Regions from separate parts of the Homo sapiens genome. Here region 1 is linked to region 2. The links come from fine-mapping of genetic effects on gene expression. Tissue or cell type: whole blood. Region 2 holds a variant in brackets; the other region holds the start of a gene. All regions are shown on one strand. Distances are between the middles of the regions. Region 1 holds the start of PAG1 (phosphoprotein membrane anchor with glycosphingolipid microdomains 1). Region 2 has its middle 20 kb from the start of PAG1.

The links.
Region 1: it holds the start of PAG1, and the variant in region 2 is fine-mapped to the expression of PAG1 in whole blood (INTERVAL, PIP above 0.99).

The regions. Positions count from the first base shown.
Region 1 is chr8:81,109,358-81,114,739 of GRCh38, forward strand. PAG1 (phosphoprotein membrane anchor with glycosphingolipid microdomains 1) reads right to left here and starts at 2,711. Exons shown (of 9, transcript NM_018440.4): 1 at 2,234-2,711. RefSeq lists an enhancer at 2,157-2,226 and a silencer at 2,717-2,846.
Region 2 is chr8:81,128,943-81,134,324 of GRCh38, forward strand. No RefSeq gene overlaps it. Among named protein-coding and RNA genes, the nearest start is that of PAG1, 20 kb to the left of the region's middle. RefSeq lists an enhancer at 1,475-1,554. The variant A/G (reference allele first, on the strand shown) is at 3,233.

The sequences.
Region 1 (5,382 bases), 20 kb before region 2:
AACACAGACAGACGTGGGTTAAATGCCAGCTCCAATTTCTACTATTTGATCTCACTGAGCTCCCATTTTCTCATCTCTAAAGTAGAGATGAAGCCACTTACCTCAAAGGACTGTGGTGGGGAATTGAGCAAGACAGTGTTAAATACCAGTTGGTGTCTGTATCGCTAGACAGTGCACAATAAATGTTTATACCTTCTCTCCTATTATACACATGAACTGCTTCTGTTAATATTCATCAGCAGCAATTCAATGTCCATAGCAGCAATTCAATGTCCATAGAGTCCAAAGATGCATTTCCTTTCATAACAATGAAAATTTTTCCCAGAACAAGCTTAATATGCCAGATACTGGCCCAACAGCTCTATGTCTATGAACTCATTTAATTCTCACTACTGTTCAGTGGGGTAGGTACTACTACTGTCATCCCCATTGTACAGATGAAGACACTGAGGCACAGACTTTGGGTTACTTGCCTAGATTCAAACAGATGGTACCAGAGCTGGCAGCCTGGCTCCATAGCCTGTCCTCCTAACCAGGCTGCAATAGGGCTTAATGGGTCAATCTGTTTGAGATTCCATGCTTGGATGTAATCTCTTCTAGAGATAAGCACTGGATGCTCTCACAAACCGCAATGTGTTGATGTGACTAACTTTTCAACTTCTGAAATAACATTTTGTGTATTTTCTTAGTATTCCTAAAAAAAAACCCTTTACACTTTAAATAAGGTGCCTATAACTAGTTCATCTTGTTCTGCATGCTGAAATACCATAAATAAATGCACTTCTCTCTTCAAAGATTATGTAAATAAATCTTACATTAAAACATACCCCTGAGCTTTGGTTTAAACAATAATTTCAAGTCCAAATTAAACATTTATGTATGTGTATATATATTTAGCAGGAAAGTCTTAATATGACCTATTTTGTTAAACTAATGACATCTATACCCAATACTCCAAATATTCCTCTTATTTATAATATTCGCTGTGTAACAGTCACACAGCAGTACTGCATGGTACTTCAAAGTACTATTCCTTTTACAAGTTTAACCAACTCAGGTATTAAACATCAATGATGATAATCCATAGCTCTGCTTAAAAGGAATCTCTCGGGAACAGCTGAGAAAGAAAGGTTAAAGATTTCTATCCTTCAAAGTAGGGCACTGCAGCTACCTATAAATCATGCTCTTTGTTTATTAAGATAATTAGGCCCATCAGTACACTTAACTTTTAGACTCAACAATTGTCTGGCATGAACAATTTCCACTTTTTCTAAAACAAAGGGGATGTGTTCAAAAAGCGGTCCTCTGCATGCTCTCTGCACAATGCATGCTATTTTAAAACATGATTTATGGGTCTAATTCCTGGAGCTGCCTTGAAAAATATAGTGGGTTGTTCCTCCCATGCTCCCTATTAGGAGAAGACACTCCAATTTGAAGAGTGCACTCTGTTTCAGACTTCAGGCCGCTATATCATGTCAGCATTTTCAGTAAATACTGTTCAATTGGACTTTAAACAAATGGAATGGAGGGCCACAGCTGCAGCCACTGCAGAGATAAAGTTATCCAGCCGGGAGGCTTACATAAGAGGTGCAGGACAATCAGGGTGAAATCCAAGTGTCATTATCTGAATCCTATTTCTTGAGACTTGCCTACATTCTTAAAGTGTATGAATTCACACGCCCAGAGCTCGTTTTATTTGCCTTAGGGCATAAAACACCGGGTCGACATATAAGTTGTTTTTTCCCTAAAGGACTAGGCTCCAATTATGAAAAGGTTGGCAACTTCTGCCTAGGGGAAGAGTAAAGCGGGATGCGCGGGAAGCCTGCAGGCCTGAAAGAAATGGCTCGCCCAAAGATCCATCGCAGTGCTGGCCACACTCCCCAGAGGAATTAGGATGGAGGTGACAAGACCCTGCCCAGCCCCTTCACCCCAACGTAAACACAGAGTCAAGGAGCTTGGAATGAATAATTAGCACGCAGCAGTCGAAATGCCCTAGGAGTACCTGTCCTCTCCCAGCATATTTCCAACTGGCACATTCGTGAGATGCTGAGGTCAGCCAGCCCTGGACTCCAGACCTTCCAGCTGCCTTGTCCCCTTCTTGGCACCCCGCACTCCCTCCTCGAGCTGGAACTCTGTTAACAAGAGGTGCCACCCTCGGCTTCCCACAAGAAGATAAAAACGAACCTCTCCTTCCCACGGCTCCCTCCAACTTCAGAAACTACAGTCAACTTACTGGGACTCAGGAGGCAGGGAGTCTTCCTGGCGGACGGCGCTCGGAGGCAGCCTCTGCAAACTCCGGCGCGCAGCGCCGCCGCCCCGGCACAGCCCGGCAGCAGCGGCAAGTGCAGGACCAGGCGCCGCCGCTCTGCACCAGTCGCCTTGGCTCAGCTGTGCCGGGCGCCGGGCATTCGCCAGGGCACACGACTCAGCGAGGCGGCGGCTGGGACTGAGGCTACTGCACCCGGCCGCGCGGACCCGAGCGCTGCAGCTGCCTCCAGCCCCGGAGCGCGGCGCTCCGAGCCCCTGGTGGGTGTCTCTGGCTCCAAGGGAATCACGGCTCAATTAGGGACCTGCCAGGAGAAAAACCGATGCGCTGCCGCAGGCAGAGCCGCCAGCCCGCCCCCAGTCGGCTGGTCACATCGCGGGCGCGCAGACGGACAAGCGAGCGGGAGGGTACCGCAGCCAGCACTCGCCGCCGCGCCGCGGAGAATGACAGGCGCCGAGGCGGAGCAGCCGCGCGGGGAGCGGGGCGCGAGTGCGCATGATCCTGGCCGCAGCGGCACGTCACGGGGGAGGAGGGGCGGGCCGCGGGGCGGGAGGGGGCGAGCCGGGCGGGGCCGGGCTGGGGGTGCACACGGGTGAGGACCGGCGCGGGGCCTGGCTTGCTCGCGGGAGGATGCAGGAAGTCTTCCCTGCCCTGATTTTATGAACCCAAAGCTCTGTGGTTGAACTTGTCCCAGGAGCCCATTGTCCTTTAAACAGCACCGTTTAAGCGGTCCTTAAGGTCCCTGGGGAGCCCACAAAAGCCAATTTAATTCAGGTTACAGCTTAACCGTAAAGGGTTGCCATTTGGGGGACAGTGATCTTCTATTGTGGCTGTGCATTAAAATAACTTGGGGAGCTTGTAAGAACCCTTTGCCCCGGACGCATCCCAGAACAAGTACAGGACAATGTCTGGGTGGGGCCCACCCAGGTATCAGTAGGTATCTAAAGATACCAAGGTACAGCAGTGCTTCTCAAACCCTCAGTGTGTGACAGAATCTCCTGCGGATTGTGATGAGATGCAAGATTCAGATTCAGTAGGCCTGGGATAATGAGGGAGACATCCTTTCTAACAAGCTCTCGGAGGATGCCAATACTGGAGGTCCAGACCCCCATCCTTGCTACTTAACGTGTGATCTAGAGCCTGGAGCAGAGCTTCTGAAACAGTTGGCCTGTCTGACAGTCACCCGAGGGGCTTATAAAAAACGCAGAACAAATGCCCAGGCCGTACCCCCAGTGATAGTGGTTCTGGCTCAGCCCCTGGCAAAGGTGGGCTTCTAGAATTCCATTTGGCATCAACACTCTAAATAAATCTGATAGGGGTTTTGTTTGGGCCAAACTTCAAGTTTACACTAGCAACCTGGAATTGGGAATAAACTTTTGCACTTACAAGGAGACAAACCAAGTCTAGAACTCAGGACATCTGACTTTGAGTCAGGGATTCTAAACCAACGGGTGCTTTATCTGACTAGTCCCAATTTTCTAAAATTATGATGCATTACTTAGCAAGAAAAAACATATAAATGGCATTAAATATACACACACACACTCTATTGAACACTCGTTACACATATCATTAATGGGAGCTTAAAGGTGGCTGGGGAAGAAGGCTCATCAGGAGAGGGTAAGGAAGACAGTGATGGAGTAAGGGATGTTGTTAGTGTGTCGCAGAGGGAAGGGTATGTGGGAGGAAACAGTTTAGACTCAGCCTACAGCTTGGAAAAGCCCATTGGGGAAGCGGACCCAGGAACCAGACTTGGCCTCTTGCTTCAGAGCATGGTATGAAACTCAGGTGTTTAAGAACTTATGGAGTATAACATTTCACATACGTTACCTCACTGAAATTTCACAGTGGTCTCTTAAGTTGAATAATAATATAAAAAAGTATCCCCATTTTATATATTAAAGAAGACATCCTGGACATGAGTTGACTAATGGTGGAACTTGAATAAAAGTAGGGATCTCCGTGTTGGACTTGGCTTCTACAACTCTGGAGAAGAGGACAATTTAGACCTTATAAAGCAAATGGTTTCTGTGTTTACTAGTCACATCTTTTACAGGCTGTGCCTAAATTTGGAGTTAGGAAGGCTTTCATTCTTGTGGGGAGGAAATACATTTTGTGTCTTCCAGTTTTGCTACACTTGTTAGGATACACTTAGAACAAAATGTTCTAAGAGCAACCCGGTCCTAGGACATTGCAGTTCCACAGTGCAGGCTTCATTGAGGAGTTTGAAGGGCAATATTCACGTTATCTGGTGACAAGTGTAATTACCATCCTCATTTTACCCAGGCTCAGAAGCTAAGTGATTTAGACAAATTCACGAATGCAGGCAGGAGCCAATCTCTAGCCTCTGTCCTTTTCCTCTGCTCTCTTTTCACCAAGTAACATGCTGAGGATTGTTTTTCATTTCCAAATTTTTCATATCAGGATTTGCCATCAGTAAATTGGAACTCAAATGTATTTCAAAGCCACTCCTAGATAGAGAACCAAAAGTGTCAGGATCAATTCTTGTGCTTGTGGTAGATGCTATGGGCTATACTCTCGGTCTGAGTAATGTTTTGGAAGCAAGTATGTGATAGTTATATACAGTCTTCTAATCCAGAGGTTTGACTGGGAATGCTACACTGCCAACTGTGGTCTACCTGCCTTTATCTTTACTTCTTATCTAACTCTTCCATTACAGCCATTCTTCGGTGTGATTATGAAATTAATTCCTAAGAAAAAAGAATTCTTTGAAGGAGCTGGTACATCACAGGTTGTAAAACTTACTTCAGTTTTTAATAAGAAATATATATATATTTTAAATATGAAGGTAGCAGAATAGTCATGTTGGGACCTTTAGAAGAACCCAAAGTTGTCATTGTTTTCTTAGGTGCCCGACATTTCAATCAAAATATTTACATAATTCATTTGTATATTGATTTCAAGAGATCCAAGATTTAATTAAATAAAAAGTTACTATTAATTGGTGTGTCCTACTGCTATTGAATTTTGAACCATTGTTATTGGCATTAAATACATGAAATATATAATATTGTCTTGATACTATATTGACTGTGCTTTAATATTGACTGTGTCTTGATATTGACTGTGTCTGTATTTAGAATTTATTTCACATC
Region 2 (5,382 bases):
TGTATTCTTCTCCCCTGTACCTCCAGTCTTACTGCCCCATTTCTAGCCTATTTTGATCCTGCATGTCAAATTGTCTCTGCATTTCTTTATTTCTGCAGAGGGGCTGTAGCTCTGCAGGAGCTCCTGGCCTCCTCCCATTACTGAAAATAAATACCAGGGAAAATCTGTTTCTTTAGTAATTTGTTTCTGATTATAAATATTGCACATGTATTGATTACATAAATCCATATACTATAAAACTGATATTTAAGAGAATAAAAGTCCCAACCTCAGAATTAACTACTGCACCCCCCTTTTTTTTTTTTGATGGAGTCTCGCTCTGTCGCCCAGGCTGGAGGGCAGTGGCGTGATCTCTGCTCACTGCAAGCTCCGCCTCCCGGGTTCACGCCATTCTCCTGCCTCAGCCTCCTGAGTAGCTGGGACTACAGGCACCCACCACCATGCCTGGCTAATTTTTTGTATTTTTAGTAGAGACGGGGTTTCACCATGTTAACCAGGATGGTCTCGATCTCCTGACTTCGTGATCTGCCCACCTCAGCCTCCCAAAGTGCTGGGATTACAGGCATGAGCCACTGCGCCTGGCCAACTACTGCTTTTAAGGTAGACTTTATCTCAGTTTGCTCAGTAGATATAATTTTTTTTTTTACAGAAAAGGGATAAAACACACTCTTTTATAACTGGATTATTTTCCTTAGTGATGTACCCTGACCTTGTATGTCACCATTTATAGATTTTTTGGTTCTTTTAAACAGTGGCATAGCATTTGATTTTTAAATGGATGTACCATAATTTATTTAACTTGTCTCTTACTAGTGGGCATAAGGCCTGTTTTTAATTTTTGCTATTATAAACAATGTTCTAATCAGTAGCTAGGTATAGATATCTTTGGCCACTTTTGTGATAGGTCTCTGGTATCACTTTCTAGTATTGGAACTGCTAGATCAAACATTATACATATTTAACATTTTAACTGTTATTACAAAATTGTCCTTCAGAAGACCTCTGTAGTATGTTTGTTTCACCTTATCTGGGAATGCCAGGTGCAGGGAGAATTCAGCTTCACCTAGAACCAAAGGAAACCCTGTCAGTGAAAAGTCTCAGATGAGACCAAGGCTATCTCTTCAAATAGTTTAGAATATGCAAGATTTAACAAAGATAACATATTTGCCTAGTGTTCCTGGTACTCTGCTGGGTACTGGGGATAGTACCTCAAGCCTCCCTCACCCTAGTTGGTAAACAGCAGGCTAGTGCAGCGGTTAAAGGAGCATGGGTGAGGGTGAGGGGATTAGTTGGGGGATGTTTCTTATTTAAGCTGAATTATTTTGATGAAAAGGATTTTGGAGGGAAAATGTTTTTGTGTCAGTCATTAAGTAGCCCAGTGGATTAGTAGAATGATAAACAGATTTTTGCAGTTTAAGGAATGGGGTACAGGAAATGAAAGCAAGTGATCTCAGCCTGTTTCTCAACCAGTTAAGAATGTTTTCTACTGCAAGTGACAGAAGTGGATAATGATGGCTTAAACAAGTAGGGGATTATTTTTTTCTGAGACAAAGGTCTAAATGTGGGAGGCTGAGGATTGGTTCAGTGGCTCAATGTGTCAGGGCCAGTGTCTCTGCAGTTCTCTTGGCCCTTCTCTCATGGTGGCAAAACAGCTGCCTCTATATCTGGTGTCACATCTGCATTCGAGCCAAGAGGAAGGAAGAAACGGCGGTGGCGGGACATCTGCCTCTGCATCAGGAAGGCAAAGCTTTCCCAGAAGCCCCAACAACAGATTTCTGTTGCTGTTTACTGGTTACCACTAGCTGGAAGAGAAGGCGAAAGTGTAAAGAACAGAATGGCATAATTGGCTTAGTCTGACTATGACCATTGCGGGGATGTGGGCACACGGATTCCCAAACAAAATCCAGGCACTTCTAACTAAGAAGAAGAGGGGTATAGATATTAGGAAATTACTACAGCTATCTCTTTGTGGGTTAGATTTTGAAGGGCCTGGTAAACTATGCTGAGGAACAGGAACTTTCTAGTACACCAAAGGCAACCACCCAAGTTCTTACATGGTTTATAAGGGTTGTTAGTAGTGGCCATTCTTTCCCAGATAATTTCAAGATTCTGGACTTGGTGGAAGATTATTTCAGAGTGACAGCTACTGATCAAATGAACAACTCTCCTTACTTGCCTTATAATATGAAAGGACAAGATTGTGCTATCTCTTTCATCTGTAAAGCTTTCCTTGACTTCAAAAAGAATCTTATAAACAAAAGCTTTTCACAGGATGTGGAGATGAAAACAAGTTATAAAAGCAGTTTACATACCATGGTTTAGAACAAATCATAAGGGATGAACAAACAAACCCTTTTTAGTTAAAAAAAATTTCCATGTTTACACACACGTGTATAATTACTATCAAGATATCATGCATTTTGAAACATCTTTATTTAGGTGGTCATACAGCTCCCATGGGCCATAATGTTTATGGTTGCACATAGTTTTTTTTGTTTGTTTTTGTGGGTTTTTTTAAATTTTTTTTTTATTTTTTGAGACAAGAGTCTCACTTTGTTGCCCAGACTGGAGTGCAGTGGCGCAATCTTGGCTCACTCCAACTTCCACCTCCCAGGCTCAAGCAATTCTCATGCCTCAGCCTCCTGAGTAGCTAGGACTACAGGTGTGTGCCACCTTGCCTGGCTAATTTTTGTATTTTTAGTAGAGATGGGGTTTCACCATGTTGGCCAGGCTGGTCTTGAACACCTGACTTCAAGTACCTGCCTCAGCCTCTCAAAGTCCTAGGTATACAGGCAACAGCCACCATATCTAGCTCAGTTTTTCTTAAATATAAAGTAATTTTTGTCCACACCAAATCAGAGTAGCTGAGAACTACTGCTAAATACTCCATAGTTAGTTTATCTATAAATTAATATTTATTCATTCTGATACATTGATATGTTTATGTTTAGTACAGAGATACATTTGAACATAGAAAATCAGAATAGGAAGTTCACCATAAATATTACATAAGTGAAACACTAAAAGTGACCTGTCATAAACCTCAAGAGAATGCTTGGATATTATGAACTGGCTTTATCATTACTATTCTCTTATTAAACATTTAAAGTCTTTCAATATAATAGGGAAGGATTACTTTCATAAATAAACTATTGCTCTTTTAAAAAACTAAACACTATTGTAAAGGTATAATTTCTTGTGTGGAAATATTAGTAAGAAAATTGTGAATCAA[A/G]CTATATTCTTTATTCTTTAGTTACTCTTCAGGGTTATGCCCCATAGCATATGAGTAAATGGTTTTAATATTTTTAGTAAGAAAATTTTGATCACATTAAATGTTATTTAATGTTGTTATTGATAGCAAAGAAAAAGGGCATAAATGTTTCAAATTTGCCATTACAAAAATTACTTGACACGAGCGACTAGGTTTATCCCACATAAATTAATGTGAACACACCCAGAGGGACACAAAAGGAAAAAAATACCATAGATGAAGACTCAGCAATGAGGAAAACACCAATATTTGCCCATAACCCTGCCCCACCATATATGAAAAATCCATTGATGATTGAGTGCTTTCAAAATAATTGGCACAATCCCTTCTCTCACAAGAATATTGGAGATGATCAAACAAAACCTGCTTTTTTATTTTTAAATTAAAATTTTTCCTTTCCCTTTCCCTTCCCTTGTCCTTCCCCCTTCTGTCTTGCTGGTACTGAGCACTCTGGGCTGCCCTGCATATTACTCCAAAATAAGATCAGGGCTGTCATCCTTCCTGCTTTACCAGCTGTGTCAGTCTGGGCCCCGTGGGAAGCCGATGCCGAGCATGCAAGAGGATTACCTGGGGAATTGTCTGTAGAGAATGCAAGGAGGGAGTAGGAGTCCAGTCCACTGAGAGAGGCTCCAGACTGATCTACAGATCTGACACCTACAAGAGGAGAAAGAGTAGGAAGGATTACGTACAGAGAGTCTCAGATCACAGCAGTTTTGAAAGTCTCAGCCAAGCCAACGGGAAGTCCCTAAGACACTGAGCTTTACCACTGAAGAAGCTTCATGCTGGCCAGGAAGGATGACTTTGGAGTAAATAACATTGTGGTCACAAAGGAGTAACTACTGGAGAGACTGTTCATCAGGTCTGCTCCCCAAGCAGTTTCCCCTGAAGGAGGCCACCACACCAGCATTGTCTTCCTTTTTCAGCATTATCTTTCCTTTTTCCTTCCAGAAAAAGGATGTTGGATGTTATTTCTCTATCCAAAAGCCTTCAGTAACTCCTTTTTGGCCAGAAAATAATGCTGCAACATGCATTGAAGGTTTCTGAAAGCTTGACCTTGGCTTCATTTACACCTCTATTTTTAGAGTATTTCTCCCTAATTTCTATTTTCCAGCCACAGACAACTTCGCACCATAATCTGGAGTTTGAATGCAGTGTGAAGCCTCTGAGCTTTTGCTCACTCTGTTCCTATACCTCCATACTCTCCTGAGCCTCTCAAAATACTACCCTCCTTTCCATATCCAGGCAGGTGTCTTTCTTGAGCCATCTATTCAGAATGCATCACTTTTGTGTTCAAATACCGTGTGGTTCAGATGTCTACTTGGTGTGAATTTCACTTTACTTTATTTTATGTCTTTCCTTCAAAGATCTAGAAGACAGAAACTATATTTCTAGGACCCTGCTAGGTCTTGTGCTTAGTGGTGGTCATTTGATGAGTGTTTACTGAAAATAAATTAACCCAAATGCAGGAGAGGACGTTTGTTTGTGAGGAGGTGAGTTGCAGGAAGAAAGATGGAATCATCTAAGGAAAGTCAGAGACATTTCTGTACACATTGTCACTGAATTCTCTTTGCTTCTCAAGGAGAGGCCGAAGATTTCCTTTCCTGGAACTTGAAACAGAGTGTCCAGAAGGCTTGAGAGATAAGGGGCAGGGAAGCAAAGATGTCTTCCCTTTTATGGAACTCTTTGGGAGCCCAGCTCTAAAGGAGAGAATCAAATCCGTGTTTTCCTGTGTAATTCTTCCCTTTCTTTCTTACGTGTACCTGTGTGGTCCAGGATTCTCCCTCCTAGTTCTCGTGTGGTACCTGTGTGGTCCAGGATTCTCCCTCCTAGTTCTCGTGTGGTACCTGTGTGGTCCAGGATTCTCCCTCCTAGTTCTCGTGTGGTACCTGTGTGGTCCAGGATTCTCCCTCCTAGTTCTCGTGTGGTACCTGTGTGGTCCAGGATTCTCCCTCCTAGTTCTCGTGTGGTACCTGTGTGGTCCAGGATTCTCCCTCCTAGTTCTCGTGTGGTACCTGTGTGGTCCAGGATTCTCCCTCCTAGTTCTCGTGTGGTACCTGTGTGGTCCAGGATTCTCCCTCCTAGTTCTCGTGTGGTACCTGTGTGGTCCAGGA